Linked DNA regions of Homo sapiens: region 2 is linked to region 1. Evidence: fine-mapped expression QTL. A gene starts in region 1. The other region holds a variant in brackets. All regions are shown on one strand. Distances are between the middles of the regions. Region 1 holds the start of ANKRD65 (ankyrin repeat domain 65). Region 2 holds the start of LOC124903819 (a long non-coding RNA gene).

Evidence for each region. PIP is the estimated chance that this variant, and not a neighbour inherited with it, causes the effect.
Region 2: its variant is fine-mapped to the expression of ANKRD65 in prefrontal cortex (GTEx, PIP 0.95).

Annotation. Positions count from the first base shown.
Region 1 is chr1:1,412,518-1,425,213 of GRCh38, forward strand. It overlaps ANKRD65 (ankyrin repeat domain 65), which reads right to left and starts at 8,759. Exons shown (of 4, transcript NM_001145210.3): 1 at 8,616-8,759; 2 at 8,280-8,488; 3 at 7,535-8,075; 4 at 5,903-7,032. The coding sequence starts at 8,488. The coding sequence ends at 6,583. It overlaps ANKRD65-AS1 (ANKRD65 antisense RNA 1), which reads left to right and starts at 7,649. Exons shown (of 2, transcript NR_187360.1): 1 at 7,649-8,047; 2 at 9,952-10,770. RefSeq lists enhancers at 5,732-5,811, 5,979-6,428.
Region 2 is chr1:1,119,449-1,135,341 of GRCh38, forward strand. LOC124903819 (a long non-coding RNA gene) reads right to left here and starts at 9,536. Exons shown (of 2, transcript XR_007065349.1): 1 at 9,043-9,536; 2 at 3,455-7,984. It overlaps LOC124903820 (a long non-coding RNA gene), which reads left to right and starts at 9,236. Exons shown (of 3, transcript XR_007065351.1): 1 at 9,236-9,310. RefSeq lists a silencer at 2,561-2,900, an enhancer at 3,509-4,327 and a cis regulatory region at 15,402-15,893. The variant G/C (reference allele first, on the strand shown) is at 9,707.

The DNA of each region.
Region 1 (12,696 bases):
TCTATACAATGTCTGGAATCTATGAATAACATCTGTTTCTAAGTTATGAGTTGATTTTTCACTACTGAGTTTAGGCCAGGCAGGCGCAGGCCTGGTTTCGGGCCTAGCGCCGGGCTGCCTGTCCTTGGTTTTACCTCCTTGTTGTTTTTTCTTAAAATAGGTACTGAGTATAAAACAATATGAGACGGTCTCTCTCTTCCCTCATTCCCCCCTTTGAGACTCTCACTTTTTATTAGTGGGAGTTCTCACTCATTTTTGCTACTTATGTCTTTTTGTGCAATAGATTGATAGTGATTTATATAGTATGCTTGTGCTGAAGCATTTTGGTGAACTAAGGTAGTGATGAAGTTTTTTATCATTTGGAGAAATACAGGTATCAGACAAGGGAGCAGTAAGCAGGTTCCTATTACTATTGTTACTCTTGTTATAAGAGTTTTAAATCCTCCTATTGCTGGGAACTAATTTCTAAACATGGCTCCTGGATTGAGTCCATGCCACACGTGCACGGGTACGTGTGCCAGTTTTGTTATATCTTTAACTATATTCTCAGCTACTTGCCCCTGATCATCTATGTGTAGACAACGATTAGTAAGGCTAAATTTTTCACAAACTCCTCCTTCAGCTGCTAGCAAGTAGTCAAGAGCTGGTCTATTTTGAGAGCTAGCATTTCTCATCAAAGTCTCTTGCCGGGCAAGAACAGTCAAGGCTTGACCAGGTTTATAGTAATAATTTCTAAAACAGCTTGTAACCGTATGATTCGGTTGAGCACGTAGATGGGGGTTCGATATCCCCATGAGCCATCTTCTGCCCAAGTGGCGGGTCCGTAGTATTGTATGATTTTTTCAGGGGGCCATTCATCATCTTTCCAATCACTTATGGCTATGCTTCGTTTTTCGCGGGAAGCATAGACTGGGAAGCCCAGACGTTCACCTGTTTTTATGGGCAGTAAGAAGAAAGATGGCTTCATGGTGCCAATTACACAGCTACCTGTCCATTGATCAGGCAGCTTAGCATAAGCTCTGGGTCCACATATCCAGTATAACCCGGTGGGGGCCGTCCAGTCCCGGTGGAGTTCTGGGTAGGCCCAAACAGTCTGCAACTTTGGAAATTTACTGAATGGATTTCTTTCTGTGTAATTGGAACTCCACCATGTAACTGTTTTTGTGGTACCGTTATACAGCTTTTGCCCAAGACAACCAAGCCGCCCTACAGGATGAGTGAATCCTTTTCCTTCTCAAGCTATGCAATACTGTCCAATAATTGAGACTTTTAGAACTCAAAAATTGTCAGGGTGGTTCTTTTGGGCTGGGAATTCATCAGGAACTGGGTCTGTAGGAACTAATTCTCGGGCTTCCCATGGCCGCTGATCTCCTGTTACGGTTCCTCCGCAAACACAGCTAGAGGTGACTTGTAGAGACTGGGCTCCATGTTCGGCTAATTGCAAAAACAAAGTTTTAGTTTTTGCTGGAATCTCAGGTACTGACACATTTAGTTCATCATAGAAAGTCTGCAATATGGTTGTGGAGAGCGTTATTGAACCTCTCCTTCTATTAGGATGCTTACGCTAGGATCTAAGCCTTTTCTGTCAATGCCTAATGTTAACACTTTTTTTTATTCCACTTTGGGTCTGAAGGGTTTGTGATTATCAATTCTAAAAGGTTGTAGCTCCCACTCGTGCAGGAGGGGCTGACTTTTCCTTTTTGGAGCCAAACAGGATCTTTTTTATCTTCTTTCCAAGTAGCCCAAATGACACAAGACCAGTATTGACACATCTCACATAAATGTGATTCTTGACAGATATACTTATTTTTTTTTTACTGTGTAACTTTTTTTCCAATTTAGAGAACTGCATCCTATTCCATGCTGCTAACTATTAATAGCGGCACCAGCCTCAAATTTTAAGGTTACATTTTTGGGGACCCCTCTTTCTTCTGTTCTAGCTATTAACTTACTTGTGTCACCTAGAAAAGGACCAGTCCTGTGATCATGGGAGGCTTAAAATGGGTCATAACACGCATCAGTTTGGTTATTTCCTGGGCTGCATACCTTGGATAGAATAGCATCATACAAACAAGTTTCTTTTAGAATCCTGGTACACTTACAATAACCATAAAATAATAGGACTGTAGCAATCTTTTGTCTTACCTCAGTGACTTGATGTATATACTGGAAACAGTTCTCAGTCTGAGGAAGGTCAGTTGAAGTCCTTACTGTACAAGTCCAAATTTTAAGGAAAATGAGTCCCGCGATGAGTTTCCTCATGCTTCGGCTGTACGTGGACCAGTCAGCTTCCGGGTGTGACTGGAGCAGGGCTTGTCGTCTTCTTCAGAGTCACTTTGCAGGGGTTGGCGAAGCTGCTCCCGTCCACGTACAGCTCGAGTCTACTGATGTTTAAAGATGGTCTCGGTGGTTGGGCCCCCTAGAATAAACTGAGTCCAACACTTCTACACAGTTAAGTTTCACTGAGCTCTCTGATACTGGGAGCAAGGTGGCAGGGTTTAGGGTTTTGCAAACTTCAGTGGTTATGTGGGGATTTTCACAGAGCAAGCTTTGGTATCTAGTTAGTCTAGAATTCATTAGCTAATGATGTCCTTTGGTATTTATTAAAGTCACCACAGCATGGGGGGACTTTAGGTTTTGCCTAAGAGTTAGCTTATCTGCTTCTTGTGCTAACAGGGCCGTTGCTGCCAGGGCCCTTGGACAGGGGGGCAGCCTTTGGAAACCCCGTCTAGTTGTTTTGAGAGATAGGCCACTGGCCTTGGCCAGGGCTCTACGGTCTGGGTTAAAACTCCAACTGCTATTTTTTCTCTTTCTGACACATAGAGTGTAAAGAGTTTTGTCAGGTCAGGTAGCCTCGGGGCTGGGGCTGACATGAGTTTTTCTTTTTGACTCATGAAAAGCTCGTTGCTGTTGGTTGGAATGGATGTAGTTTATCTAATCTACATTTTTATTGACTGTCATCTACCAAAATATTGACTTAAATCCTGTAACTATTTGATTTCAAGCTTTAAATTGATCTGGTGTCCCTTGTGGGGCTCCAATTGCGTCTAAATAGATGTGAGAGTTGAAAGACCCATAAGGGGCTTCTCTCGCTTTACGATGTCTTTTTTTTTTTTTCTCCTCTGGTTGATGAAATGCCAGGGTGAAAGGGATAGCCAAACGGACTAAAGCACAAGTGCCACTCTAGTTATTCGGCAGAGTGCCCAGTACAGGTCCACCACAATACCACCACACATCCGCTCACATCCGCTCAGGGATGAACAAGGGCTGACTGATTGATAAGCTCTCGAAAATTCTTAAGCTCACTGCATCCCTTCCAGTCTCCAAGGACTGCTAAGTCTCCTCCCTGCCGTGAGAGACACGAAGGGAACTTAGTTTTGGGAGACGGAAGCTGGATGGCCCTCGGGGGCTGACCCGCAGGGACTGCAGAATGTAGCGGGGAGAGCTTGGCATGACTTGCTGCTCCAGGCTGTAGAATCCTGGAAAAGAGCTACCGTGCAGCCCACGCCTGGTCGACTGAAGGACCACCTTAGTGGAAGGGGGACAATCAGAGCCTTTGGCCTGCCATGTGCACGAGCATCACAATTGCTTTTGTTTAACATCAGATGGAATATCTGATCCATTTCAACCAGGCATTTTGCATCTTGGTATGCTGTCTTAATTGCCAAAGTTTGTTTTAAGTCTTAAACTTCCATGATCCTCTAGTAAAATGAATGTTTCCTTTAGCACCTATTTTTATTAGTTTTTAGACCAAAGAAAGCTAAACACCATTTTATATTTAATAATGCTTCTTGTATGATTTTTATACCAGATAAGCTAAATTTTACCTTTATATTAGTGTGTTATTAATGTTAAACTTAATTTTAATAAAACCTTGTAGACATATTTATCCAATTTTTCATGTTTGACCATAAGGTAAGATTTTATAGACTCTTTTTAACCTTTTATAACTTTTGTTAAAGAGCAGGTTGATGCTTTAAGAAAAACCTGTTGCATTTTTACTTTAATGTCCAGTTCACAGAAAAACTGGACGATACCTTTTTAACTTTAGTTAACATGTTTACACACAGAATTTTCTTTACAATTTACATTTTAAAACTTGCTTAAACTCTTAAAAACAATAATTTTTTTAACCTTTTAATGTAGGTAAAAATCCATATTTTTATGCCCCTTTATAATTTTTTTTACCAAAGGTATATTTTACTTTTCTTGTACACCTTGCACATAAACTTTTTTTTTTAATAGTACTCAGGGGCCAGGCGCGGTGGCTCACGCCTGTAATCCCAGCACTTTGGGGGGCCGAGGCGGGCGGATCACGCGGTCAGGAGATCGAGACCATCTTGGCTAACACGGTGAAACCCCGTCTCTACTAAAAATACAAAAAATTAGCCAGGCGTGGTGGCGGGCGCCTGTAGTCCCAGCTACTCGGGAGGCTGAGGCAGGAGAATGGCGTGAACCCGGGAGGCGGAGCTTGCAGTGAGCCGAGATCACGCCACTGCACTCCAGCCTGGGCAACAGAGTGAGACTCCGTCTCAAAAAAAAAAAAAAAAAAAATAGTACTCAGGAGGCCTTATTACTTTTAAATTATACAACATTTTTTGCATAAATTTTTTATAACATTTTGTTTTACAACTTTCGCCGACAATTCTTCAACATATCTCAACTTTCTGCCTTATTACAAACTTTTAAACAACCAGTTAATATATTTCAGGACAAGAATTTACCGTATAACATGCTTTTCACATAAATTCAGCCTCCCCTTTTTTTTTCTTTTTTAAAGCGAACTTTTTTTATGTCTTTGGACTAGACTGTCTGAGGCCACAAGATTAAAAGTTACCATTAACATGTTACACTGTTAACTTTTAGCAAACTTCGCTTTTGTTGAAAACCTTGGAAGTTTGGGATTTCAATTATCCTTTGCTATTAATAAGACCTTGTTTAGTCTAAATTAACTTAGAATTGGTATAGATGGCCTCTTTTTCTCTCTGCTGGTCTTTCCTTGCCTCTGCCAGCCGCTTATGCTGCTGTTCTCTTAACTACCGTAGGGGGGAGGGGGTCTAAAACCTGCTCTAACTGTCCATGTACGGAAACTGGCCTGGGTGCCTTGGCTTACACGTTACCTTGTGTCATACCTTTGAAACAAGGGACCTGTCCAGGCTTCCTTCTGATGGCCAACCCACCTCTAATGCTGACAAGTCTATTTCACACAAAGTTGTAAGTTTTCCTGGTGTCAGAGTAACACCGTAATCTCCCTTAAATTCTTTCTTGAAAAATTTTTTTTAACATAGTTCCTAGTGGGGTGGGCTTATCTGTGCCTGACCCACGCTTCTTCAAGACAAAACACCACGCTCACACCACAAAACAAAAAACAGGTAAAAAGGGCACACACACACTTTTGCAGTTTACACCAAACCAAAATCAAAACCAAAATCAGAGTATCCAGAAATCCAAGCCAGGTCAAAACCAAAACCAAAGTATCACATGATCTCAGTCAAGTCAAAACCAGAACAAAGGTGCTAATGCAGGCACGCCGTGGGCGATCAGGCCACGCGTCTACTCAGGTGGAGTGGGGCAAGTTCCAAAGACTAGTCTTACCAGGTTTCAGATGTCCGGACTCCAAGTGCCAGTTCCTTCCCGGTGTTCAGCCACTGTGTTAATCCACCATGGGGGCCCGTTATGGGCTGCTCTGGCGAGGTGTTCCACCGAGGCAATTTCCTACCCGGGAGCGCTCTTTAGCTCACGTCACTCAGGCTGGCCGGAGTCCCCCGCAGGGATGCTCCACGGGGCAGGCCTAAGCCGCCTAAGGGGCTGCCTCGGTCGTCTGTCAGTTACCTCGTTTCCCAGTCAGGGAACCAAGAAATGTAGCAGGACGAGCCGCAGACAAAACCTCTCAGACACCCAGTTGTAGAAGGAAGGGCTTTATTCAGCTGGGAGCATCGGCAAGCTACTGCCTTAAAATCCGAGCTCCCCAAGTGCACAATTTCTGTCCCTTTTAAGGGCTCACAACACCGAAGATTTCACATGAAAGGGTCGTCATTGATTTGAGCAAGCAGGCGGTACGTGACAGGGGCTGCATGCACCGGCGGTCAGAGAGAAACAGAACACGGCAGGGAGTTTCACAAATGTTCTTCTATACAATGTCTGGAATCTATGAATAACATCGGTTTCTAAGTTATGAATTGATTTTCAACTACTGGGTTTAGGCCAGGCAGGCGCAGGCCTGGTTTCGGGCCTAGCGCCAGGCTGCCTGCCTGTCTTTGGTTTTACTTCCTTGTTGTTTTTTCTTAAAACAGGTACTGAGTATAAAACACTATGAGAGGGTCTCTCTTCCCTCATTGCCACAACTCATTCTTTGTTGAAGTATGGAGAAGGCTGGAGCTGCAGGGTCAGTGGGCCCTCCTGGGAGCTGGGGGCCATCCCTGGTCCAGCCAAGGCCTGTGACTGCAGCTCAAGCCACATCCCCTACTTTCTCCCATCCCCTCCTCCGGAAGCCTCTTCCCTGATGTCCCCTCCAGGCAGGCAGCCTCAGCCAGAGAGCCTGGAAATCACTGGGGCGGTGGAGCCTGGAGCCTGCTGTCTGGCTCAGCCCGTGGACTCTATGCCCTCACACTCCTTCTCCCCCCCTCCAAGTTCAGGCAGCGCCTGGGGCAGGTCCCCCTCAGGCATCTGGGCCACCTCGGCCCACTGCGTCCGCAGAGTGGGGCTGGCCCCTCGGCTCAGCAGAAGCCCCACGGTAGGCCCATGCCCTCGCTCTGCAGCCAGGTGTAGGGGGGTCTTTCGGAGCCAGCCGGTAGCATCCACCTGGGCACCCCTGTCCAGCAGGCAGCCGGCAACCTCCACGTGGCCTTCCCGAGAGGCGTGATGCAGGGGTGTGAGGCCCAGGGTGTCCCGCGCATCCACCTCGGCCCCCTGGGTGACCAGCAACTGGACGGCAAGCAGGTGTCCTCGGGCGGCAGCCCTGTGCAGCGCAGAGCGGCCATGCCTGTCCCTGATGCCTGGGTCTGCCCCGTGGCCCAGCAGCACCTCAATGTCCTAGAAGAGGAGAGAAAAGCAGGGGCCGGCCTCAGCCCGGTAGGCGAGGGGCAGAGCCACCAGGCGTTTGCCCAGCCCAGGCCTCTTCTGTCCCCGCAGCGGCCTGTCTCTCCTGACACCACTTCCTCATGTTGTGAGGCCGAACCCAAGGCTGGCCTGCTTGGAAACGTCCACTTTTCCCCCTAAGAGTCCTTAGAGCAAATCCAAGGATCTGCAGCCAACACCCTGCCCGCTGCCCAGGAACGGGGGTCTCAGGCACAGGCCCGGCGCTGGCGGAGAGTCTGTTGCTGCCACCAGCATGAAGCCGAGCCCCGGGCCTCGGATCCCGCCCTGGTCTCCACGGGACGGGGCTACACCGGAGGGGCACAGCCGGGGGCGCGCTCAGGGCCTTCGTGCCTGGACACCGTCCCCCAGCCTGGCTCCAGCTGCCCCGGTGGCACGTCTCTGGGGATCCTGGCCCTGCGCCCCCTCCCATCACTGCCGGGCGGAGGGCGGGACGTACCTGGGAGCGGCCTAGGGCGGCCGCCAGACCCAGCGCTGTGGCCCCCGCGCCATCCCGGGCGTCCACCCGCGCCCCGCGCGCCAGGAGGAAGCGCAGCGCCGCCCCGCGCCCCGCAGCGGCAGCCACGAGCAGGGCGCCGTCCAGGCCCGCGCCGCCGGCCGCCAGCAGCTCCAGCACCGCCAGCCGCCCGCCCGCGGCCGCCCAGTGCGCCGCCGTCCAGCCGCGCGCGTCCTCCGCCTCCGCTGCCGCGGGTCCCGGGCCCGGAGCCTCCAGCAGGCGCGCGGCCAGCAGCGTGTGGCCCAGGGCAGCGGCCCAGTGCAGCGGCGTGAGGCCCGTCCCGGAGCGAGCCGCCGCCGAGGCCCCGCGCTGCAGCAGCAGCTCGGCCACCCGCGAGTGTCCGTGCCAGGCGGCCTCGTGCAGCGCGGTGCGCCCCGCCCGGTCCACCGCGCCCACCGGGGCCCCTCGCTGCAGCAGGAGACGCACCAGGGGCGCGTGGCCCCGCAGCACGGCCAGGTGGAGCGGGGTCCGGCCTGCGTGGTCCCTGAGGAGGGGGCAAGGGCGTCGGCGCGGGGGTGGACCACTGACCAGAACCCCGCCCTGCCCCACCCCGTCCTGCCGCCCACCCAGCGCTGGGACCCCCGTCCTACCCCATCCAGAGAAGGGACTCCTCCACCCACCCAGTGCTGGGACCCCCATCCTGCCCCACCCAGAGAAGGGACCCCTTCACCCCCCAGCGCAGGTGCACCTCTCCTCCACGCTGGCACCTTGCCGCAGCAGCTGCGTCACCAGGCCTGCAGGGCCCCTCCACACGGCCTGGAGCAGGTGCCCCCAGCCCTGGACAACACTAGGCCCCTCTGTCCTGGTTCCCAGGGCCTCTTCGGAGTCCAGCTCCATCCACCGCAGTTCCTGTTCCTCCTCCTCCTCCTCTCTGGGCTCAGGCCTCTGGGAGTCCATCTGGGGGGGAGCAGGGATCCTACATCCACTGTGGAGGCCTCTGGCCTGCCCCCAGCCGTGTCCCAGGCCAACTGGAGCCCCCCATTCCAGTTACCACTTAGCCTTCAGAGGGGCTTGGCTCTGTTACCCAAGGGAGCTGGCTCAGGAGCTTTCTGCTCTGGCTGAGGGTCCTCTGTAGACGGGTTCTGGCCGAGGCTCAGCCTGGTGACCCTCTTCACAAAATCCCTTCTGCAGGCTTTGGGGTGGAGTGTCTGCTGCTGAAAAGCTGAATGGTGGCAGCTTCAGCCTTGCAGGGGGTGGGAGAACACAGCTGGTCCCCTGGGCCAGGCTGAGGCCACCTGACGCTGTTTACTCAGCCACTTAGGAAGGCCCTGCCTTCGGGCACAGCCCCCTGTCCAACATACTCCCTCCCCTGCTGGCTGCCAGGGCCCCAGTTCGGCTGCCCTCCTGGGGAACAAAGGCCAGGCGGTTGGGGAGGACAAGCAGGAACATGCTTGTGGACGAAAGTTGCTCAGACGCCACCTCCCCCAGGAAGCGCAGCCTTGGATGTACCCCGATGTGCCCCTGGAAGGCCTCACAGGGCTCTCCATGGGGCCCACCCTCGGGCAGCCCCCTCACCCACTCCTGTCCCAGCTGGCTAAGCCCACCCAGGGGTGGGTGCCGGCCCCTCCTCCCGATTCCAGGCTGGGGAGGAGGGCAGGGTGAGGTTCTGGCCTTCCTTTCTGTAAATGCTGGACAGGACAAAAGATTCACCAAGGACTCCAGGCAGGTGGCCTGGAAAAGAGGGTGGCGCTGGCATGGGAGGGACGAAAACCCTTTGGGGACTGGCTGGGGCAAGTCTGGAGCCAGGGAAGGGACAGATGCCTGGGCAGGTGGGGGCGGGGGTCGGGGGGCAGGCGGGAGAGTGGGGAGAATCCCTGCTAGGGTGCGTCTGCATCTGGAAAAGCAGCTCTGCCCCAGCAAGGCCTGGGGCAGCGGGATCCTGGGGGCCTGGGGCAGGATGGGTGGGGCTGGTGCTGAGGGCATCTTCCTGTCTCCCAGTACCTGGGGCCAGGCAGGAGAAGGGAGCATGGCTCTTTGGGGTGGCTGCAGCAGCCTGGCCCCTCCAGCGGCTGCACGGGAAAGGTAATGAGGGCTACCCATTCCCACCCCAGCCCCCTTCAGCCTCCCAGGTCCCCAAGGACAGGGTCTCCTGAGGGCCCTGGTCTGGCCTCCCCCACTCCCTAGAGGACTGCCTCTCCAAGGGCCCAAGGGACCAGGGGCCCCATCCCACCACCCCCCAAGCCACACAGACCCTGCCCTACAAACCTCATCAGGCTACTCATCCGTCACCTTCCCAGATCCTGACCACAGGTGGATCTGAGGCAACGTGCGACTCTAACCCTGTTTTAGTTTGTTCTTAGCATTTATCACTACAGGAAAGTATCTATGTGTTTATTTAAATGTCTGCCTTCCTCTTCTAGAAGGAAAGCTCCGTAAGGCTGACCGGGAAAGAAGCGAGGAGCTCTGGGGGCTGGGTGGAAAGTCCCGTACTCATCAGGGCCAGGGAGGCCACAGAAACTACCTCACGCCAGCTTCCCAGGGGTACAGCGGCTAGAATGGACCTCGAGGAGGCCCCTCCCAAGACTCCCGTCTCCCGGGTTCCACCGCAGTGGGGGCAGCCACAGCTGCCTCTGCAATGCTTGTAGGACCCACACACAGTGGGGCACGGAGGGGCAGAGGCCGCAGCCCCTTTGCCATGAATCCAAAGAACCTGGAGTGATTCTGCAGAGACGTTCGAACCAGAGCGACTCCATCTTGAACAGGGGCTGGGTAAAATGAGGCCGAGACCGGCTGGGCCGCATTCCCTGGAGGTCAGGCATTCTTAGTCACAGGATGAGATCAGCACAAGATACAGATCACAAAGACCCCGCTGATAAAACAGGATGCCGTGAAGAAGCCGGCCCCAAACCACCAAAACCAAGACAGCCAGTCCTCACTGCTCATTATGTGCTGATTATAATACATTAGCATGAGACACGCCCACCAGCACCAGGACCATTTACAGTTGCCATGGCAATGCCGGGAAGTTACCCTAGATGGTCTAAAAGGGGGAAGAACCCTCACTTCCGGGAATTGCCTGCCCCTTTCCCGGAAAAGTCCGGAATAATCCACACCATGTTTAGTACATATCAAGAAACAACAATAAGTGTTCTCGTCGGAGTAGCCCAGGCCGCTGCTCAGCCTATGGGGCAGCCCTTCTCTTATTCCTTTACTTTCCTATTAAACTTGCTTTCAGTTTACTCCGTGGACTCCCCCGAATTCTTCCTTGTGTGGGGTCCAAGAACCCTCTCTCGGGGTCTGGATCGGGACCTCCTTTTCCGATGACAGTCCCTGGGACTTAGTAGCAGTTCAGCAGTGTTTGTTGAATGAATAAGCGAGAGACCTGGTTGGGGGGCACTTAGAAAGCAGAGGTTTTGCAACTTTTTAAAACTTTTTATTTGTATTTTTGAGACGGAGTCTCACTCTGTCACTCAGGCTGGAGTGCAGTGGTGTGATCTCAGCTCACTTGGAACCACCATCTGCCAGTTTCAAGTGATTCTCCTGCCTCAGCCTCCCAAGTAGCTGGGATTATAGGCACCCACCGCCATGACCGGCTAATTTTTGTATTTTTAGTAAAGACAGGGTTTCACCATGTTGGCCAGGCTGGTCTCCTGACCTCAAGTGATCCGCCTTCCACAGGTTCCCAAAATGCTGGGATTACAGGCGCCCACCACCATGCCTGGCTAACTTTTTTTTTTTTTTTTTTTTTTTTGAGATGGATTCTCGCTCTGTTGCCCAGGCTGGAGTGCAATGGTTTGATCTCGGCTCACTGCAACCTCCTCCTCCCGGGTTCAAACAATTCTCCTGTCTCAGCTTCCCGAGTAGCAGGTACTACAGGCACGTGTCAACAGGCCCAGCTAAGTTTTGTATTTTTTTTTTTTTTAAGACAGGAGGTTTCACCATACTGGTCAGGCTGGTCTCGAACTCCTGACATCAGGTGATACACCCGCCTCAGCCTCCCAAAGTGCGGGATTACAGGCATGAGACACCGTGCCCGGCCTGATTTTTGTATTTGTAGCAGAGACGGGGTTTCACCAAATTGGCCAGGCTGGTCTCAAGCTCCTGACCTCAAGTGATCCACCCGCCTCAGCCTCCCAAAATGCTGGGATTACAGGTGTGAGCCACCGTGCCCAGCGCTGTAGGGACACTGCAGGGAGGCCTCTGCTGCCCTGCTAGATGTCACACGCCACATGGTACCACTCTCCTTCTTGTTCACAAGTCTGAAGGAAGTAGGTGAGCTGGAGAGGCCTGGAAGGTGTTGGAAGGGATGGAGCCCACTAGAAGGCCTCACAGGGAACGGCTCAGCTCACAGACACCTACTCCTGTCAATTAATTATGAACACGGAGCTGGAGGCTGGGCATAGTGGCTCACGTCTGTAATCCCAGCACTTTGGGAGGCCGAGGCGGGCAGATCACCTGAGGTTAGGAGTTTGAGACCATCCTGGCTAACACGGTGAAACCCCACCTCTACTAAAAATACAAAAATTAGCCGGGCGTGGTAGTGTGCGCCTGTAATCCCAGCTACTCGGGAGGCTGAGGCAGGAGGATTGCCTGAACCTGGAAAATGGAGGTTGCAGTGAGCCGAGATCGTGCCATTGCACTCCAGCCTGGGAAACAAGAGCAAAAAATTCCTCCTCGACAAAAAAAAAAGAAAGAAAAGAAAATGGAGCTGGAACTGCTGACGTGCAATAAAGCCCTGGGAGACGGACAGACGTCAGGGACTGTGCTGGGCGCGGGGGCTGATGCCTGTCATCCCAGCACTGTGGGAGGCCCAGGCAGGCAGATCACTTGACACCAGGAGTTCCAGACCAGTGTGGGCAACGTGACAAGATCCCATCTCTACAAAAAATACCAAAACTAGCCGGGCGCGGTGGTTAGGTGCCTGTAGTCCCAGCTATTTAGGAGGCTGAAGTGGGAGGACTGATCGAGTCCAGGAGGTCAAGGCTGCCGTAGCCGTGATTGAACCACTGTACTGCGGCCTGCGTGACAGAGTGAGACCCTGTCTCAAAAAAAAGTCAGAGTCGGGAGTAACGTTCAGAGAAAATGCTTGGGGTTTTGGATGGGAAAAGTTTTGCCCCTGACTAGAAATGATGGGCTGGGCGCCGTGGCTCACGCCTGCAATCCCA
Region 2 (15,893 bases), 290 kb before region 1:
TGTCCAGATGGCCAGGATTTAAACAGCCACAGCTGGTCCCTCATGCACTGCGGGGGTTGCGGAATGGTGCGGCCCCCTGGAGAGCCCTTGGCAGTTCCTTAAAAATTGGAACATGCAGGTGCCGTGGAAGGCAGCAGTGGCATTCTGGGGCATTCATCTCAGAGAAATAAAAACTTCACACACTCGCCGGCAGCTTCATTTTAATAGCTCCAAACTCGAAACAACACTCCCCCCCAGGTGGGTGGTGAGCCCACCCCGTGCAGACACCCTGAGGAGCGGGCACCATGAAGAGGCCAGGATCCGGCTGGGCGCGGTGGCTCACGCCTGGAATCCCAGCACTCTTGAGAGGCCAAGGCGGGCGGATCACTTGAAGTCAGGAGTTTGAGACAGGCCTGGCCAACATGGTGAAACCACGTCTCCATTAAAAATAAAAAAAAATTAGCCAGGTGTGGTGACACACGCCTGTAATTCCAGCTACTCAGGAGGCTGAGGCATGAGAATCACTTGAACCCAGGAGACAGAGGTCTCAGTGAACCGAGATCGCGCCCCTGGGCCACAGAGCGAGACTCCATCTCCAAAAAAAAAAAACCCAAAAAACGAAAAAAAAAAAAAAACCAACAACAACAAAGGAGGCAGCGTCCATCTGGGGGGACCTGAACAACTCCAAGGGCCTTGGCTGGCGAGAAAATCCTGCCTCAAAAGGGCGCGTGCTCGGTGGTTCCACGGTCTACCATTCCCTCTTAAAAATGTTTTTAAGCAGAGACGGAGACTTGCTGTGTCGACCCGGCTGGTCTGGAACTCCCAGGCTCATGCGACCTGCCCCCCTCCCACCGTGCCTGGTTCTACAGCTCTTAAAGGGCAAAACGGTGAAGCTGGATCACAGATCACAGTGGTGAGCAGGGGTGGGGCGGGCACCCCAGGGGTGCGGGAGGTTGGACCACTCACATGGGCCTGGATGCCTCCTGGTTATGACACTGCCTTCCTGTTCCTGCCGTTCCGCTGGGGGAAGCAGGGGTGGGGGGTGGGGGTCCCTGAGCTCCGCTGGGGGAAGCTGTGGTGGGGGATCCCTGAGCTCCTCGGCCCTGACTGGGCTTAATGGTCTCTGGGCCTTTGACTTTGTCCTTTATTCTAGGACATGGCTATTTGGACAAATAGTTCAAAACCCCTAGAAGATGCCGGGCTTGGTGGCCCAAGCCTGTAATCCCAGCACTTTGGGAGGCCAAGGCGGGCGGATCACCCAAGGTCAGGAGTTCAAGACCAGCCTGACCAACATGGTGAAACCCCGTCTCTACTAAAAATACAAAAATTAGCTGGACATGCTGGCATGCGCCTGTAATCCCAGCTACTTGGGAGGCTGAGGCAGGAGAATCACTTGAACCCGGGAGGCAGAGCTTGCAGTGAGCCGAGATCGCGCCACTTCACTCCAGCCTGGCAACAGAGCGAGACTCCGTCTCAAAAACAAACAAAAAGCCTAAGAGATGACTTCGGAAAGAGGGAAACTGAGGCGGAGCTCCCAGCCGTGCCAAACAGCAGCTCCTCCTGAGGGCTCCTGGGGACCTCAGTGAGGCTCGGTTTTGGGGGCCTCGGTGGGGCTCGGTTTTGGGGGCCTTGGTGGGGTTCGGTTTCTGTTGCGTCACCTCTATGCGGTCCCTGGGGCTGGCGTGCCAAGGCTCGCTGGCTTCCTACTGCACTGGGACTCCAATTATCCGCAGGCCATTCCCAGAAGGGCTGCTCTTCCCAGCAGGCCAGGCCGTGCCTCCCTGATGGGGGGTGCTCTTCAGCTCACGGGGAAGGGGCTCAGTCCCCACATAGCTACACCAGGACGTGCGTGGACGAGGGAGGCTCAGAACTGCAGCTGGGTGCCCTTTACCCCCGGCAGTGCTGAGCCTGGACACCTTGTCCACCCCCCCACACCGACATGCAGGGCCCAGAGGCCTCCTTGCCTAAGGGAGGAGCAGGTGGAGGTGTTAGCTCTTCCAAACAGGCAGGTGCTGGGGGAGGCTCAATTATCAGCACGCAGTTAATCCCCTAATTAAAGGAGGCAAGTGCTGTTCATGGCCCCACCTCCTCCCCAGCCAGGCTGCTGCCCTGCAACGAGGCTGAAGCCTCCTGCTCTGCGGAGGCAGGCCCTGTGTTCTGCGCTGAACAGGGCTGTGGCGACCCCCAGCCCCTCCCGGTGCCCACGCTGCCCCTCCCCCCATTGCCCCCTGGGATTGCCCCCCCTCCCCCACCCCACCCCATCTGGGACTCCTGCCCCTACAGCAGCCGCAGCAGGCCCAGGGGTGAGGCCAGCCTCACGTGGCGCCTGTTCTGTGGGTGGGGTGGGGCCTTCCTTGCTCTGGGCAGAGGGGTGCCAGCCCTGAGGTCCTGGAGCCTCCCAGGCTGAGCCACTGGCCCTGATGCCCACTGGGCTCTCGGCCGATGGACGACCAGGAGACGTGGGGACCAGCGGGCTGGGCTGTGGGTGCTCCCTCCTCAGAGCTTCAGGAACCCTCTGTGTGGGGGGCGTCTCTTCCCTAGAAACTGTCCTGTGCTGGCTAAAGAGCCTCCGGCGGCTGTGGGACAGCCTCAACCTTGCCAGGGCTGAGATGACGATGGTTGCAGCTGCCTTTGGAGCTCGGCTGCCTGGCTGGGCAGGAGGCTGGGGGGCCTCTGTCCCGCCATGGCTTCCCCGGGACCCCACCCTCCGCCCTCCCCTGTGGCCTCAGTGGGCCTGGCACCCAGGCAGAGACTCTCGGGTTGGGTCGTGGGGCCCTGGGAGCACAGGCTGGGGCATCCGCGGACCCTCGTCTCCCCAGTGCCAGGTCCCTGAGCCCGCCTGCAGGTGGCGTCTCTCCCTCACGGGTGCCGGGCCCGGACCTGGGCACTGCACTTGGCGTTGCCGACCCAGCCGCTCCGACTCCTGCCCGGGAAGTCAGGCAGTGTGGCCGGGACCTTCCTCAGGAGACCCTGAGCAGGGGTTCTCAGGACCTGGGGGATCTTCGGAGCTGATGGGAGGCAGCCCCGCCGGGCTGGGTGGGTGGCAGAAGGCCCCCTGGCCTCGGCCTGTGAGGCCGGCTCCCTCGGAAGTGAAGCTACGGCACCTCGAAGCTCAGACCACAGCCATCCTCACATCCCCCGACGGCCCCCGTGCCTCAGGGGCCCCCCTTCCTACCTGCTGGCGACTCAGCGAGGTGGGGGCGTCTTCCCGTGCCCATGGCACCTCTCTCTGTTGCCACATTCTACCTCCTGAATCAAGGGGTGCCCCTCGCCCGTGGGGAGGTGGGGCCTGTGACCAACACCCTTGGGGCCAGCGTGGGGCAGACACCCCAGCTTCGAACCCCAGACGCCCACCTGGGGCCCCATCCACCAGCCCCTCTGCCTCACGCGGGTCTCTATGCACCAAAGTCCTGCGTCCACACAGGAAACCCTGGTTCACCGTAGGGACGCCAGTCACTCAGACGCAGGCCAGAGCTTTGGCCGTGCAAGGATGCAGTTTAATTACATATGACACAGATGGTGAAATACGTGCAAAGCACGGAGCTGTGTCTGTGAAAATGAAGAGGAACACTGAGGAGCAGCACGAGGACAAGCCCCACACTTCTGCGGTTGCTGTTGGCCTCAGCTCTGCCGCCTCAGGGCACAGCCTTCTCCGCAGTTGCTCTCCTGGCCCCGCAGGGTCGTGTGTGCCTGCATGAAGCTAAAACAAAATGCAGAGCTTCTCAAAACTGCTCTACTTCATACCATTAACCGGTCAGCCACCAGTACCAGCAAACCCGCAGATGGGACGCAGAGGCTTCCAGGAAAACAGCAACACCAAACACACCGGACGGGAGTCCTGGCTGCAGGCCGTTCTACATCCAGGGCCCCGGGTAGGCAGCGCTTACTCTTCCCCCATGCAAGCCCCTCCCTTGTGGACAAAGGCAGAAGTGAAGGTGGTGCTCTCCAGATGGGGCTGTAAACGCTGCGTCCTGTGTGCTCTGCCTGGGATGGCTCGCCCTGGACACCAGCCCTGGCCAGTGAGAAGCCCAGGAGCAAGTACGGAAGCTCATGCAGCACACACTTGAGCACACACCTGCACGCACACCTGCGCACACGCCACACACACCTGCGCACACTCCTGCACACACAGTGCACACACCTGCACACACACCTGTGCACACACACCTGTGCACACGCCACACACCCGTGCACAAACCTGAGCACACCTGCACACACACCTGAAAACACACCTGCGCACACCTGAGCACACATCTGCACTCACCTGTGCACACACCTACACACACACCTGAGCACACCCCACCCACACCCCCATGCACACACCTGTGCACACCACACACACCTGCACATACACCTGAGCACACATCTGCACACACCTGAGCACACACCTGCGCACACACCTCAGCACGTATCTGCAAACACTTGAGCACACACCTGAGCACACACCTGCACACACTCCTGCGCACACTCTACATACACTTGAGCACACACCTGGGCACACACCTGCACACACCTGCGCACACACCTGCACACACTCCTGCACACACCTGCGCACATGCCACACACACCTGAGCACACACCTGTGCACACTCCTGCGCGCACACACCTGCACACACGCCACACACCTGTGCACACACCTGCGCACACCACTGCATACACACCTGAGAACACACACCTGTGCACACACCTGCGCACACCACTGCATACACACCTGAGCACACACCTGCACACACACTTGGGCACCCACCTATGCACACACGCCTGGGCACACACCTGCACACACACCTGGACACACACCTGGGCACACACCTATGCACACACATGCCCTGCAGTTGAGCTCTGAGAAACCACCACCCTGTCCACTTCGCAATTGTGCTTCCTGCTACGTCCACAGCTCTGAGTTTCTGAGCTCTGGAAGCAGACGTGGTAAACGTGCATGTTCCAGCCACTGCATGTGGGGTCACTTGTTACACGGCAGCAGCTAACTCATGCAGGAAGCCACGTGAATTCTGGGCGTGGTTGGGGCCTCCTCCTGCACCCAGTCCGCTCACTGCTTGGGGCTGCCACATGCGTGGGGTTGCTGCCTCTGAGACCTCACATTCCCGGGTTCCCTCAGCCTCTGTTCTATTGGAAACTGCAGCCCTGTGGGCACAGGCAGGGCAGGCACTGCAGGTTCTCTTTGGAAGGAGCTTCGCAGGCTGAGGGTGGGGCCCTTCGCCACCCACTGCCCCACCCAGGGAGAGGCTGCCTCGCATCAGCTCCGGGGTCTCCACGTTCTCCAGACCCCAAGAACCCCTTGGCCTTGCAGAGTCTCTGTGAGTCAGGAGCTCAGCGCTGGAAGATGCATCCAGGTCAGGCAGAGACCCCTGGTCCAGCCTCCCCCTCACTTGCTGCTGGCCTGGGCCACGGCACTGCTGCAGGCTCCGCGGACTTTAGGCTCATTTAATGCCTGACCCTGAGTGGCAAGCCCCACCCTGGGCAAATATTTATTTGACAAATAAGGGCTCACCAGGACGAAGGCCATGGAAGGCTTTCCCCAGGGCAGCCGCTGAGCGGCTGTGGAGGCCGAGGGGTCTGTCCGCCTGGGGGAGGCAGGAGGGATGTGGGGAAAGGGGGGCCTCTGACCGTGAGTCCCCAGATCGGTTCAGGGGCGGTGGGAGCCCCGGCTGCTGGAGCCTGGTCTGCGTGGTACAAGACGGCCCCCGTGCCTGCTCTCTCTGTTCTGATGAGAGGATAGGGAAGGCCATGGTGCTGGAGGAGCTCCCGGCTCCCGGGGCTGTGGCCCAGAAAGACGCCCCAGGGTGGCACTCAGACAGTGAGGTGGCCTGTTGACCCCACAGGGAAGTGCTTGGTCTCAGGGCCCAGTACAGCTGCCCCCACAGGAGCCTCTACCACAGAAGCAGGCATGGAGGAGCTCGGAGGACCGTGGCGGGGACAGGGGAGGGTGTGTGTCTGCCTCGAGGCCTCTCCTCCAGGCCTTCCTCTCCTTCAAAGGGACTGCCGCGGCCGAGGTGTGGCCTGCAGGGGTGGACTCTGAGGCCAGCAGGGGCCCGCCCGACACCTCACCTGAGCTACACTCTTCCCCTGACAGAGGTGGCCGATGGGGCTGGCTGAGCTGGGCCTTTTATGCAGGAATGGACGCCCTTGGGGTCAGCCTCAGGGGTTAACCCTTAGCATCCTCTCAGGCCAGGATTCCAGGAAAGATGTTTCCTCCACAGGCCCTCAAGTTACCCCAGGGCAAAGAGTGGATGGCCCAGGCCCTGTGCAGAAAGAGTCCTGGGTCCTCCGTCCTCTTCCAACCTCCTGCTGAGAGTCCCAGGCAAGCACAGATTCCCAGGCTGGGGTATCCCATCCAGACTTTCGCCCTCTGTACCCTTCGTGCTGGGCCTGGGGTGGAGTGTACTTGGAGGGGACCCATCCTCAATCCACCTCGTTCCGGAGAGCTGAGCCCTCAAGAAGCCCAGGAGAGCAGCTCGGGGGAGCACGGACCCTGCTTCCAGCCCTGGGCCATTCGCCCGCTGGAAAAAAATCCCCAAAATTTGCTGATAAATATAAGAAAGTCACAGCAGCCTTCAAACAAGCAGACTCCATAGACAGACTCCAGAACCGCTCCGCAGGCACAGGAGACACCAAACACACTGCTGTCCGTCACAGTCAGGGACCCCCCGGGAAGGACGGGGGACGGAGGAGGGCAGGGGCCGCGGGGTGGGGGCCGAGGGCCTCCCCGTCAGCTGGCAGCAGCGGCCCCTCAGCAGCCTGGAGTGCTGGCCTGCCAGCCGGTCTGCCTGTCCTGCGCCATGGCCTCCCTGTGCGTCTGTGAAGTCAGTGTGAGCTGCTCCCGGGGCGGCACCGGCGTGGTGACCTCCTCCCTGGAATTCTCTCTGTTTTTTTTTTTTTTTTGAGATGGAGTTTTGCTCTTGTCGTCCAGGCTGGAGTGCAGTGGCACAATCTCGGCTCACTACAACCTCTGCTTCTTGGGTTCAAGAAATTCTCCTGCCTCGGCCTCCCGAGTAGCTGGGATTGCAGGCGCCCGCCACCACATCCAGCTAATTTTTGTATTTTTAATAGAGACGGGGTTTCACCATTTTGGCTAGGCTGGTCTCGAACTCCTGACCTCAGGTGATCCGCCCGCCTTGGGGGAGGCGGGGTCTTTCTCTGCCTTGGGGGAGGCGGGGTCTTTCTCTGCCATGGAGGAGGCAGGGTCTTTCTCTGCCATGAGGGAGACGGGGTCTTTCTCTGCCATGGGGGAGGCGGGGTCTTTCTCTGCCTTGGGGGAGACGGGGTCTTTCTGTGACTTGGGGGAGGAGGGGTCTTTCTCTGTCCCCAGTGGGGAGTCTCGCTCACCTCGCTGCGGCTTCAGCGGCCCTCCGCGAGCAGCGGGTGTGAGGTTTGCTGGTTTGGGTGTCGGAAAGCCAGCACACCCGAGGTCCGGCTGCTGCACCCACAGGGTTCGCGCTTTGACTTGTTGATGAGTGGTGGGCACGCTGGGCCCTCGCTGCAGTTTTTTTATTATTATTACTTTTATTTTATGTATTTATTTGTTTTTTGAGACGGAGTCTCGCTCTGTCACCCAGGCTGGAGTGCAGTGGTGCAATCTCTGCTCACTGCAAGCTACGCCTCCTGGGTTCAAGCAATTCTTCTGCCTCAGCCTCCTGAGTAGCTGGGACTACAGGCACGTGCCACCACGCCCAGCTAATTTGTTGTATTTTAGTAGAGACGGGGTTTCACCATGTTGGCCAGGCTGGTCTCCATCTCCTGATCTCGTGATCCACCCACATCGGCCTCCCAAAGTGCTGGGATGACAGGTGTGAGCCACTGTGCCCGGCCCGCCGCAGCTTTATTGATCTGAATAAGCTTTTCCGCGTGGATGCTTTATGGTTCTTTATGGTTGTGTTTCTTTAGTGCTTGGTGGATATTTTCCCAAATGCAGCTCCCTGGAGGCGCTTGCCTTGTGAGGAGCAGGAGCCTGAGAGTGCGGAACCGAGCGTGTCCTTCTCGCCGTCCCCTGGAAAAGATGAGCTGTGTCTGGTCCCAGCACATGATGCTCTGTTTTCTGAAACGGCACCCCTGGGTCTCTGGACAAGAGCCCTCCCCATCTTGCCCCTCCAGCACACAGGATGCCCTCCACAGCCACTCCCAGGGGGCTGGACAGAGTGGGGCTGAGCAGCGGCCACGGGAAGCCACCGGCCACCCAGACCCCCGTCCTCCCCGGGTGCTGCCCTGGGCCTAGGTGGCCAGGTCTGGGGGGCCGATACCACGGGCTACGCCCAGCCCCACCCGGCTCCTGTGTGGTGTCAGGGGCTCTGGCATGCCGGCAGGCCAGTGCTCTCGTGAGAGGTGGGTCCCCAAGCCGGCCCCAGCGAAACTCAGTTAAAGGACGAGTCTGCTTTTGGGCCTTATGTTTCCCAACTCCATGGGCAGAGCCACAGGGCCGCTGCCTCCTCCACCGTGGCTGGAGACAAGGCGGCCCCGGGTCTCTGTGAAGCCCTGGCCACGTTCAGCCGCAGGGCCCTGGGTGTCATCGCCACCGCCCCACTGTGGCCCAGGACTGGGGCTTTGGTGGCCCGTGCTGTGGGAGTGGGGGCAGCCAGCAGCCAGGGTCACAGGCCTGAGCCTCGGACAAGCACAGAAGGACCCCCAGGTCTGGTGCTCGTGCTGACTGCCAAGGGCAGCGACTGCAAGACGGGGGTGCAGGTTTCGGGCGTGGCGCGGGCTGCGTCGGGTTCTGGCATTCAAACATATCATGCGGGACCAGGCCTGGGGTTACAGGTGGGGCGGGCGCGCAGGAGAGGGGAGCCGTCCCGGAGCCGCTCTGCACCCAGAGAGGTGTGAGGTGCAGCCTTTCCCCCCTGCCAGGAAGCGCAAACCCTGCTTTAGACCCCAGGGAGTTGGTGCCCCCCCCAGATGCCCGCGGCTTCTCCCACATGGGGAGCTGTCCATCTGTGAGGTCAGACCTGGGCTGCGGGCTTGGCCACCGCTGGATGCCAGCCAGACCTGCCCCTCTGACTTTTCTTGCTCTTTTCTCTCTGCTTTTCCGAGGCCGGCTTTCCGCGAGGCACTTACTTGAAAATGGAGCCCCGGCATTCCTGCATGCACGGACACTAAATCCAAGGCCAGCTCCTCTCTCAGAGCAGAAGTTAAAAATTATTCAATGCCAAATTCCTGGGCTGTGGAGCAGTAGTGGTTGTACCAGGCAAAGGTTCCCGCCGCCTTCCGCCGGCCGGGCAGAGATAAGACCATGAGGGCGCCCGGGGGAGTCCGCGCCTGGCCCACACTGCCCTCCGCCGTCCTGGGACCAGGCCCACACCGCCCTCCGCCCTCCCAGGACCAGGTAGGACTGAGGCTCTGTGGGTCTGACCCACAGCGTCTGGGAGGTTTTGTCTCAAGGGCTGGTGGCTTCTGATGAGCCGAAAGCCCCCGCACCCACGGCCCCACAAAGCTTTTCTTCCGGGACCAGCCCCTCCCCAGTCGCCTGGCCAAGGCCCAGCCCTTAGGGGCCTCCATGGTGTGCTGGGGAGGACCTGGGGGTCCCGCTGGTGAGCCCAGGGCACAGTTGTGGCAGGCGGAGCCCGCGGGGAGGGCAAGGCCTCAGAAGAGGAGGGATTCAGCCGGAGGGCCTTCCCCAGGGCTGGCGGCTTCTGCTATTGGCTGGGGGGTGGTGAGGGTCAGCTGGGGCCTGCAGGGCTGTGCTGGCCAGGTGGGCCGGGCCTGGGGTCCCACAGCCTGA[G/C]CGGAGATGCCTGGAGGGGGCCACAGGGTGACCATGTGCCCCCCGGGAGAAGCTGGGGTCTTGGGTCCCCGTGATGATTATGGGTGTCTGGGGGTTCCTGTAGGAAAAGATGGCTGCGAAGGCCCCAGAGTTCCTCGGGGCCTGTGAATGACCCAGCCAGGGGGCCCTCAGAGGGGGAGAGAGACTGAGAAGCCATGATTTACATTTCCTGGCAGAGAGCTCTTGCAGGGAAACCAAATTTATTCCAGTTGACAAGGTGCGTGGGCATTGGGAACAACGTGGGTGGGGGCACAGCCTCCTCTGTCCCGGCCGAAATCCAGTCCTGCAGAGATTTGGAGCACAGAGCATCAGGGCCGCCTGTGAGGCACAGAGCGAATGGGGCACCAGCCTGCCCTCGGCCTCAGACACGGAGAGGCTCCCACGGCACTGAGCCACGCATGGCCACGCGACAGAGGGACAGAATGCCGTGGCCGTGTAGGGGAGCTGCACTCTGCGTGGCCCTGGGATGGGAAAATCCAGGGAAACAGACACTGTTATGGATGTGAGCATCGGCTGCCAGAACGAGAGGAAGCAGAAGAGGGGAAAAGGCCGATTATCGTAGAAGAGTTAGGAAAATCAATCAAAGATACCCCCTTGAGAACAGTTAAGTTCACAGCTGTGAGTTCTGGAAACCTTTATGTTTTAAAAATGATTCCGAGGACTCAGAGGGTAAAGCTCGCACCAACTTAATTTGTTATTGCCTTTTCTATCAAAGTTATGCTTGTGGCCGGACACAGTGGTTCGCATTTGGGAGGTCAAGGCGGGCGGATCACTTGAGGTCAGGAGTTCGAGACAAGCGTGGTCAGCATGATGAAACCCTGTCTCTACTAAAAATACAAAAAAATTAGCTGGATGTGGTGGCGGGCACCTATAATTCCAGCTACTCTGGAGGCTGAGGCAGGACAATCGCTTGCACCTGGAAGGCGGAGGTTGCAGTGAGCTCAGATGGCACCATTGCCCTCCAGCCTGGGCAACAGAGTGAGACTCTGTCTCAAAAAAAAAAAAAAAAAAAAAAAAAAAAAACCAGTTATGCCTGTAGGTTGCTTGAGAGTCAAACACTTCTGCAAGGCTTGGACACATATGATCTTCAGGCCGCGCCGAGGCCACCAGCTCCGTGTGCTGGGAGGCTCCTGTGTTTACTTCCAACGTCACTGGCAAACGGCAGCTTCTCAGCACTCCAGCTTCAGGGTCAGCCCTGAATCTGCCCTGTGGAAGGGGCTGTTTGCCGCCCTCCCACCTCTCGTCCCGCCGTCACGCGCCGCGCCTGGTCTCTGCTGTCACTCTGCTGGGCGCCGGGGACTAGCTTGGTGCCAGGTCCACCGTGGCCGCCTGTTCTCACCCGAACTCTGAGCTGTTTCCCTGAAGTTAATAATCGCCTTTGCTTTTCTTCTTGCTTAGCTTTCTCTGAACTCATTACTAATTCAGCCTCAGACTCTCCCCCATGACTTAAATTCCGGCACGCCAGGTATTTCTGAGGGGCCTCCGGGAGCCTCCTGCCCTGCCCGGGGCTGGTCGGCTCCCTCGGGCCTGGGGCAGGGCTGGCGTCTTGCAGGCTTCGTGGTCCGTGTCACAAAGGTCCCATTGCTTCTCCCCTGGGTGGGATTTTCCCGGGCCCCACACCTCCCCTTTCTTGTCTTCTCAGTGTTTTGGTGGAACAAGCCCCTCGCAGCTCCCCGTGAGGTGCAGGGGGTGGGCCCCCACCACGCCCACAGCTGCAGCTGCCTGTGAAGGGCACAGGGCGGGCCCCCACCAAGGCCTTCGCTTCCCTGCGAGTTGAGAAAACCTCGCCGCAGGGTCCCCGGCTCCCGAGGCTGCTGTGGGTCCGGCAATGGCATCCCAACCCCGGGGCCTTGGTATGGAACCTGTTTCTGCGGGTTTTTTCCTGAAAGTTTTTGGGGCCTTCTTTTTGTCTCCATCTCTGCTGTCCTGTGAAGGTGGATCTTTGTGTGGTTCCGTTTTCATCCCTTTCACGGGGTCCTCAGTGGCTCTTTCTGTCTGGAAATGCCTGAGCTTCGGCTCCAGGAAATGTTCTTGAATTACAATTTTTAAATGATTTTGTTCTTTATCTTTTCTTTTTGTTGTTGCTCTCTCTTTCTCTGGTGAATATTGCTGCAATTTGGAGCAGGTCCTCTAATCACCTTTTCTATCCCATTTTCTTTGCCTTTTCACGTCACGTTCGGGGAACGTCCTGGCTCCGTCCCTTCCAGCGCTTTTCGTTTCTGTCCTCGGAGTCATTCTTTTTAAGACGGAGTCTCGCTCTGTCGCCCAGGCTGGAGTGCAGTGATGTGATCTCGGCTCACTGCAAGCTCCGCCTCCTGGTTCACGCCATTCTCCTGCCTCAGCCTCCCGAGTAGCTGGGACTACAGGTGCCCACCACCATGCCTGGCTAATTTTTTGTATTTTTAGTAGAGACGGGGTTTCACCGTGTCGGCCAGGATGGTCTCGATCTCCTGACCTCATGATCCGCCCGCCTCGGCCTCCCATAGTGCTGGGATGACAGGCGTGAGCCGCCACGCCCGGCCCCTCGGAGTCGTTCTTTCTGTTGCATCCTCATGGTTTTCTGTGGCCACGTGCTTTCGCTCATCTCTTCGAGGACGTTCCTGATAGTTTGTGCCTCTTCTTTTCAAGGCTTCTTCTCCTTGCACAAGACGGTCTGGAGAAAAACCCGCATTTCCTTCCGTCACACTGACCACATTTAACTTAAAATGGGAAGAGAGCAAAACATTCCACAGGCAAAGTCAGGGGACTATTTTAATGACAGAGACACATGGTTGAAATCAATGCTGCACTCTGAGCCCTTAGAAACCGTCGCAAAGGACTCCACGGAAGGGTGGGGGCAGCCCCAGCGAGGTCGTCAGGGAGCAGAGCCCGAGTCATGGGACACAAGGCCGGACCCCTCACCGCCAGGGAAGCGGAGTCACAGGCACGTGGCCCTCTGCGCCCAGGGTCAGGGCACGGGAGGCAGAGCCTGAGACGGGGGTGCCCATGCAGGGTGTGCTGGGGGTGGGGTTGTGGGGCCTCTCAGGGGCAAGGGGCAGGACCGGACAGCAGAGAGATCCCACTCCTGCCTGAGACCCGCCGCCATCGCCGCCGCGAGCCCTGCGTTGGGCATTGGGGCCAGGCACCTGCCAGGAGGGCCTCTTCCGAGGTGGGGTGTCACCTGGGATGTGTCCGCTGGCAAATGGGAGAAACACCAGGGCGGCTGCCGGGGAGGTCGATGTCAGGGAGCCCGTAGCCCTGAGCCCATGTGTGGAGGAAGCCCTTTGTCTGAGGAGCCTGCGGCCGCCTTGGACCCTGGATGCTTGCAGGGAATCTACACAGGGTTGTCAGGTACGACAAGGGTGCCCAGGGCTGAGGAGGGTGCCCATGCGGCCTCCTACAATGCGTATGGGAAGCCGGTGAACGCCCTCCCTCAGGGCTGGCCGGGTGCGTCTGGGGTTGTCCTAGCTCCAGCTGCTGGAACAAAATACCGAGCCTGGGGACTTAAGCAACAGAAATGTATTTTCTCACAGCCTCGGAGGGGGAGGGGAAGGTCCGGTGTCCCAGGGTTGCCGGGCTGGTTCTGCGGAGGCCTCTCCCGCTGCTGCCTTCTCTCAGGCGGCCTCTGCGCAGGTCCGTCCCGTGTCCCTCTGCCCTAACCTCCTCCTGCAACTAGGACACCAGTGGGACCCGGCCAGGGCTCATCCTCACGGCTGCTTCCCACATACTCACCTGTCTCGTAGCCCCTTCTCCACACACGCTCGCGTTGTTGGTACTGAGAGTTTGGATTCTAACCATGAACTCTGGGGGCACAACCTGCCAGAGGGGTCACTGTGTAGCCCGGGGGACCTTGCAATGTCTCATCCTTAAAACCCCAGGAAGAGCAGAGCTCTGCTGCGTGTGCTCGCGGGTTCCGCCTGAGAGCAGGGTGGTTCCGGGCTGTGTGTTCCGCCTGAAAGCTGAGTTTTAGGAGCAAGCAGGAAACACAGAGGAGAAGGACCAGGAACCCTGGGGAGCCCGGGGGAGCTACAGGTGGAGAAAACTGCCCTGAGAGTGGTGGGGAGGGCAGGTCACACCCACCCCAGGGAAGGTCGCTTGGGTTTACGTGGAGACGTTGTTTTGGGGTGGCGGGGCCTGGGTGTCCAGCATCCCTGGTACATCCCTCCTGGTGGGGTCCTGCCAAGGATGACGCTCCGGCTGGGTGGGCACTGCAGTCTCAATGCTCGGGGTCCGGTGTGGGGGGCTCCCGGTGGCTGCACCCCTCGCCCTGCGCCCTGCCCGCCGCCTGCCTGCCCGGCCTCCTCAGCAGATGCTGGGCTCTGACCCCAGCGTCAGGCAGAGGCTGGGCCGGCGGCCAGGACGACTCCGCCTGGGGTTTAATGTTCCACTTCCTCCCCGCTGACTGACCCTACGCAGGCACTGGCCCTACTCTGAGGCCTCCCAGCCTCCCTTCCACAGGTCTGGCTGGGGAGGTGGTTGACGTGGGGAGGGAAAGCTTCCCAGGACGTAGATTTTGTTTTCTTTTCCTGGAAAAGGGCGGCTGCTCATGCTTCCTTGCTGAGGTCCCCTCCTGTGTCCAAGAAAACTTAGTGGTTTTCTCTCTCTCCTAAGAAATACAGGCCTCAGGTAAGGCCGGGCACAGCGGCTCACGCCTGTTATCCCAGCACTTTGGGAGGCCGAGGCGGGCAGATCACGAGGTCAGGAGATCGAGACCATCCTGGCTAACACGGTGAAACCCCGTCTCTACTAAAAATACAAAACATTAGCTGGGCGTGGTGGCGGGCGCCTGTAGTCCCAGCTACTCGGGAGGCTGAGGCAGGAGAATGGCGTGAACTCGGGAGGCGGAGCTTGCAGTGAGCCGAGATGGGGCCACTGCACTCCAGCCTGGGCGACAGAGCGAGACTCCGTCTCAAAAAAAAAAAAAAAAAAGAAAGAAATACAGGCCTCAGGTAACCAGTGCTGTCAAAACATCCCCGCATGGCGAAATCCCTCACGCCCCCCTCCCCACATGCCCGCGTCTGCTTTCTGCCCTGTCCCAAACCATTCACCTCCTCACCCCGCCACCCCAACTCCACTGTCAAACCGTTCACCCCCTCACCTCGCCACCCCGACTCCACTCTCAAAAACCAGAACAGGTCACCAGTGCTTCCCTCCCTAAACAGTTCTGTGCTGTCCTGGGAGCACCAGTAACATCCAGTTCCCCGAGGGACCAGGGGGCTGCCTCAGGGGGGAGGGGTCTCCTGCAGGCCTGGCATAGTGTGGCTGTCCCTACACCCAGACCCTGCACACGGCCCCGCGACACGGGGAGGCTGAGGCCTCGCAGGGCCCTGGGTGTCTCCACCAGCTCCTCGGGGTCCGCTGTCCTGCTGAGGTGCCCGCAGGACCCTCAGTGGGATGGGCACCAGCCCTTTTCAGCGTTCCGCCGAACAGGGGCCCAGAGTGCCTGAGAGGCGCCTGTGTTTGCACATTTGGAGGCCGGTGGGGGTCCGTGCAGGCGCAGAGCCCCACAGTAGCAGGTGGCCCCGTGGGGAGGCTCCCCGATGGGTACATCCCGCAGCAGCATCTGACATCTGAGTCTGCAGCCCCTCTCAGGAGGGGGCACCGTGAGGGGTGTGGCTTCCTCGCCATCTGAGGCTGCAGCCCCTCTCAGGAGGGGGACACCGTGAGGGGGTGGCTTACTCGCCAGGCTCCCTGGGGGCTGGGCAGCGATGGCTGGCTTCCCAGGGGCCTTCCTGAGTCACGGACCCATGGGGTCCTGGCTGACTTTGCCTGCGGCGTCAAAGGGCTTGAATCTCCGTGTAGCCACCGAGGCCTCCACTCCTGGAGACCCCACCCGTGATCCCACCTCCCCCAGGCAGATATCTTGGCTGCAGCCATTGTCCATCCCCCGGGGTCACCGTCCCCTCCCCGCCCCGATGCTCTGACCACCCGGGGGCTCCTCCCGTATCCTTTGGGCCTTCGGGAGACCCCACTCCACCACGGGGGCCTGGATACAGGGTCTTGCCACCTCCCTCCCCAGGGAGGGGCCTGGGAGAGTCTGGAATGGGATGGTCGCAGGCAGTGGGGGCCCTCAGGGTAGGGGCCTGATCTGTGCATTTGGGCACAAATTCCCTGGGCGTAAATGTCACCGGAAAGGGATCCCAAAGAGGGCTCTTGGACCTCGAGCAAG